Linked DNA regions of Homo sapiens: region 2 is linked to region 1. Evidence: fine-mapped expression QTL. A gene starts in region 1. The other region holds a variant in brackets. All regions are shown on one strand. Distances are from middle to middle.

The links. PIP is the estimated chance that this variant, and not a neighbour inherited with it, causes the effect.
Region 2: its variant is the best candidate, but not a certain one, in a credible set for the expression of ADAM32 in visceral fat (GTEx, PIP 0.67).

Annotation. Positions count from the first base shown.
Region 1 is chr8:39,106,309-39,109,215 of GRCh38, reverse strand. It overlaps ADAM32 (ADAM metallopeptidase domain 32), which reads right to left and starts at 1,482. Exons shown (of 25, transcript NM_145004.7): 1 at 1,383-1,482. The coding sequence starts at 1,440.
Region 2 is chr8:38,972,481-38,975,383 of GRCh38, reverse strand. PLEKHA2 (pleckstrin homology domain containing A2) reads right to left here. Exons shown (of 12, transcript NM_021623.2): 12 at 1,472-2,903. HTRA4 (HtrA serine peptidase 4) reads right to left here and starts at 1,156. Exons shown (of 9, transcript NM_153692.4): 1 at 655-1,156; 2 at 254-353. The coding sequence starts at 1,120. RefSeq lists an enhancer at 520-579 and a silencer at 760-989. The variant T/C (reference allele first, on the strand shown) is at 1,844.

The DNA of each region.
Region 1 (2,907 bases):
TATTTTAATTTCTAATATGTTAAACATCGATATAAATCCACATAAACAAAAGCTCTTTGAGAATCTCAAAAATTGTTCATGTATAAGGCAGTTCTGAACCCAAAAACTTTGACAACCACTGCATTAAAATTTTGTATGTGTTATGAACTGAATGTATCCCACAAAATTCTATGTTGAATCCCTAACCCCCAATGTGACAGTATTTGGTTATGGCCTTTGGGAGGTAATCAGGGTTTTAGGCATAGAGTGGGACCCTCATGATGAGATTCATGCCCTTATAAGATGAGACATCAGAGAATTTCCTCCTCCTGTCTTTCCCTGTACACAAAGAAAAGGTCCTGTGAGTACGCAGGGAGAAGGTAGCTGTTTACAAGCCAGGAAGAGAACACTCACCCTAATCTAACCAGGCTGACACCCTGGCCTTGACCACACCTCTGCTATGCTGCAGAGGTAATTATGGCAGGATAGGAAGAAGAGTAGGAAGAGTTCTCAAAAATTTACAGTATCACCAGGGAGGCTTACATGCAAGTAAAATGTTTGGATATGCCCGTATTTTTTTCCTTCTCTTATTACATACTATTCTGAATCTTGTCAGCCAGAGTCAGTACATGGCATGTCTTACTTCCTCCCTCTCCACAGTGGTCCATTTGCATTGTTTGGAGATAACCACAGTTTATTTAGCAGTTCTCTTACTAATGAACTTTTACAGTTTTTCAATCATTTTGCTGTTAAGTACTATATTAGTCAGCTCCCACTGCCATAACAAAATAGTGTAGACTGCATGGCTTAAACAACAGAAATTTATTTTCCTCATAGTTCTGGAGAACTACGATCTGGAGTCTCCCTCTGTTGCCTACTGTTGCCCACTGCACTCCAGCCTGGGCGACAGAAGGGACTCGGTCACACACAAAAATAATTTTTTTAATTTATAAAAAAGACAGGATCTCTGTCGCCCAGGCTGGAGTCCAGTGGGGGCGATCTTGGCTCACTGCAGCCTCCACCTCCTGGACTCACGTGGTCCTCCTCCCTCAGCCTCCCGGGTAGCTGGGATCACAGGTGCGCACCACCACCTCGGAACATTTTTTTAAATTTTTTTGTAGAGATGGGGTCTTGCTGTGTTGCCCAAGCTGGTCTCCAACTCCGAGGTCAAACAATCAGCTCGCCTCAGTCTCTCAAAGCCCTGGGATTACAGGCGTGAGCCCTGGTGCTGGGCCCTGAGTCGCTTCTCCATCCGGACGGGGCGCCTAATCCCCTGGAAAAGGCCCCGTTGCCAGGGTGACAGGACCAAAGGGACCCAGACAGGGAGGGCCCCGGGCTTTGCAGGGAGTCGGGCCGCAGTGTGACGAGCGCCCGGACTAGTGTCAGGGTCTGGGCTGGCTCACCGGGTCTTGACGCCAGGAGGCCGCAGAGCCCGGCCAGCAGCAACCAGAGGCGGAACATGGTGCGGCTTCGGGGCTGCCAGCGGGAAGCCGTTGGGAAGTCGGGAATTGCCAGGGACGCGGGGACGCGCGGACGCCGGGGGCCGCTCCCCGCACGTTCATGGGACAGCGTTCTCCGGAGGCCCCGGAGACGGGGTGCTCTCGGTGTTTAGCGTCCGGAACACGAAGGGCCCGCAGCGTGCGCCCCGAGGCTAAAACATCCAGCTCCCTTCCCGGCGCACCCCAGCCGCGTGGTTGCTGGAGCCACTGACCACCCAGCGCCCTCTGTCGAGATCGCGCTCGTAGTCCTCCACTAACTTTTCGCTTTGTGTTGCTGGACCTTAAGAACTGACACACTTATTCACAGTCAGCGTGTGCTCTCCTGCACCAGACACTTCCCAGTTGCTTTTTTTTCTTTTTGGGACGGGGGTGCTCACTATTCTGCCCAGGCTGGTCTCGAACTCCTGGGTTCAAGTGATCCTCCCTCCTCAACTTCCTGAGTAGCTGGGATTACAGGCATCTGCCACCGTTCGGGGCTTCCTAGGTCCTTTCAAAAGCGAATGTGTAATACTTTCTGAATTAAAATCTATATACACACCTAAATATATATTCATATTTGCCAAACCTGTTTCTAATATTTTTTCAAAACTATTTAGCCAGATGTGTGAACATTCCAAAGAAGGGAAAAGTGAGCCGCTTTTCAATATGAAATGCCAGCTCTTCATATTTTTGAAGAGCGCCAGCTGCATTTTTTTCCCCACTGACGCTGCCCAAATGGACTTCACAACCAGGCTTTTTCCTCCAATCTGGTTCTCCGCAGGCCATTGGCTAAAACTCATGTGATGTCATTCTATTGTTCAGAAACTTCTCAGTGCAATAAATACTTATTTCATGTAGTGAAAGATTTAGAGATTCTTGCCCACAATTACAGTAATTACATTCCAGTAGAAAATTCTAGCCTCAGCATAGTAATTTTTCTGAACTCAGACCGGAACCTGCCACTTAATTTCTCCTATCCCGTGTTTTAGCAGCTCTGACTTTGGGTTTTTCCTAAACACTGCTTTACTCCCTGGAACTGCAATGCCTCCTCCTTCCCAGCCTCACACCTGGTCTCCATCTGTATGCATTAGCTTTTCATTCTTTTCAAATCCCAAAGAATGGATTAATTTCTCATACTACATAATAGGCCAACACATAAACTAAAAGGCCTCATGGGAACAGAGAAAAATCTCACTTGGGGAACTAAGACATTTAAAGTGAAGATGTGATTTTTATGGATGCACGCAATTTCAACAGGGCAATCTACACCTGAAATTAATAGCATGAACAAAAACAAGGCAACAGGCCAGGTGAGGTGGCTCACGCCTGTAATCCCAGCACTTAGGGAGGCCGAGGTGGTTGGATCACCAGAGGTCAGGAGTTTGAAACCAGCCTGGTCAACATGGTGAAACCCCGTTTCTACTAAAAAATACAAAAATTAGCCGGGCAT
Region 2 (2,903 bases), 130 kb after region 1:
AATTTTGTCTGTGGCAGGAGGGGGAAAAAGCACCAGCCACCTAAGTGGGCAGGGGGAGCTGGGATTTAGAAGTCAGCATCCTTGTGCCTCTGCTCTTTGGTTAAATGACCTTGAACAGGTTATTCAACCTCTTTACGTCTCAGTTTCCTCACTGGTTTTTTAGGATTAAATGACGCTTGCGAAGGGTCTGGAGCAGGTAGGCACGCAGAAACCATTAGCTGGGACAGTGGAGGTCTTCCTCCTCCTCCTTTACCTGCCCCACAGCTGCACGTGAACCACCGATGGCGCCACCTTCTCCACCACCGCGGCGATGAAGTTGTAATTCCTCCTGAGCGGGCCTGCGCTTCTGGTCCCTATGAAAAAATACTGGCTCAAGAGTACGCCTCGAGGGAACCAGACCTGCTATCCTAGTTGGAAAAATGTTAAAGGCAAGACAGTGTTCAAAAGGTGCATGGGGAGGGAGAAACCACGTAGCAGCCGGTAAAGAGCCCCTGTTAAGGAGGAAAGGAAATCAGGAACACAGAGGTGTCGAATCCAGGAGGCAAATGACGCAGGAGGACCAGGCGCGAACTGTGCGGTCTCAGTGAGGTCTTGTTCCTTTACGCTCCTCCAGAGTTAGAAAGTGTTCCGAGGGCGCGCGCCCCCGCGGCTCACCTGTATCCCCGCAGTTCCCCCACTGCACAGGCACGGCCGGGACCTTGCCCAGGCGGCGCGCGGCGCGGTTTTCGGCCCGGAGCGCGCACATGCTGGGGTAGGTGCGCCTGTCGCTGCCGCACACGGCCCCTCCCAGCGTCGGGCAACCGCAGGTGCTGGGGAACCCGGGGCGCAGCGGCTGGAGGCACTGCAGCCCCGGGGCGCACGGTTGGCCCTGCGCCCCGCCGCAGACTTCACGCTCGGCCGCGGGGCAGACGCGGCAACAGCGGCACAGGTCGAACACCGGCGTGGTCCCCAGCGCGCAGGTGGGCAGCGCGGGGCAGCGCGTGGGCTGGCAGACCGCGGGGCAGGAGGGCTGGGTATGTAGCTTTTCAGCCCCGGCCCAGAGGACGGGCACCAGGAGCAGCAGCAGCCCCGGCAGGAGGCATCGTCCCAGCCCCGCGGTCCGCAGCTGAGGTCTAATCATCCTGTTCCTTCCTCGCTTCCACTCTTCAGTGACTTTACTCTGGACCTGCAAACCCTCCTAAATGAGAGACACTTTCTCCCGGCCACGGCGCCGCCTCCGCCGGCCCCCAAACTTTAAGGGGCAGAGCCTGGCATACCTCTGCATATACACACCCGTACATCCCCTACCACCCGCCCCCGTCGGCGCCCCGGAGCCAGGTTCTCCCCCAGGCAATGAGGGGAAGGTCTCTAGCCCTACCCGGAGCAGGAACCTACCTCCTGAAATCCCTAAAACCGACAATGAGGGCAGACTGATAAGAAAGCTCACCCACCCATGGTCAGAAGGTCAGTATTAGGAAAACACATGACCATATTTCAGTATTTCACATGGTTTTATTACAAAACAAGCCACAAAACAGTTTTAGAAAATTTTTGCTACATACCAATTAGGAGATCACATAAAATGAGAAGCGTAACAGTTTCCATGCACTCAGCCTAGAGCTTACAGCGAGTGCATTTCACAGCTGAAACATCACTGCTTTAAAACACAGAATCATGCTACCCCTTCATAAGCAGAGGGGGAGGAGGTCAAACAGTATGTTTTTGCCAAACGTTTGCTTTATCTGAACTCTATCTAGTATGAAGGACTGGCTGCCGCAGGCAATAACACAGAGAGGAAAAGGAACAAAGGAAGAAAAGGGTGCTGGCAGACAAGATTTAACAAACCTGTCCACTTCCGACATTT[T/C]GAAAGTTTATAAACAAAGCTCACTTGGGGACACTCAATTTCCAAAATGCTGTGACCTCCACATGTTATCTAATTTATACTGAAAACAAACCTACTAAACTCCACTCCTCAACTACTGAACCTGCTATTTATTCATGGGGTCTTTTTAGCCCATATAAGAGTATATTTATATTCAGAAATATAAAAGAAAAAAAATTTGCTTCAAGTAGACTAAGAAGCTGGACCTTAAAACTACTTTCTTTCTCGTGGGAGCTGAGTATTCAACTCAGAAATAGATGTATAACTCCAATATTCTGACCTGACATCAATCTCCATAATGTATACCTCAATACCCTTATGATGTCTCACTTAACACTAAAGGCCAAATTATTTTTACCAACCATCAGCTGACATTGAGTAAGCAAGTCTTTTGAAGATTTCAAAAGTAATAGATGGTGGCCAGGCGTGGTGGCTCACACCTATAATCTGAGTACTTTGGGAGGCTGTGAGGCAGGAAGATCACTTGAGCCCAGGAGGTCCAGGCTGCAGTGAGCCATGATCAGGCCACTGCACTCCAGCCTGGGTGACAGAGTGAAACACTGTTTCTAAAAATAAAAATTAAAGAATAATGGATGGCATTATTCAGCCATGGGGAGGACCACCTGAAATACTGTTACACACAGTGGGTCAAGACCACTTCAAAAGCCTTATGAAAATAGCACAACTCAGGCAAGGCTTTTATTCCACAAAGAAAATGCAGTACATTTTTTAGTTCCTTTAAAAAAAAAAAAACTCAGATTTACTCCAGAGCCTATGCACTTAGTCACTAATCTATACTGCATCCCCAACCTATTTTTTCCATTTGGTTCAATTTTATACATTTAAAACTAACTGCTTTGGTCAAATACGTACCATCTTTGGTTCACATTAAAAGATTATGGTCCAAAACTGGCCAGAAGTTAAGAAATATCAACAAAATAGGAAGTTTGAAATACAATTTAGGAATGGAATGCTTTTAGAGCTTGTTTCATTGAAGATAATAATTTATCTCATATTGAACTACATTAACGATGTTCTGGCT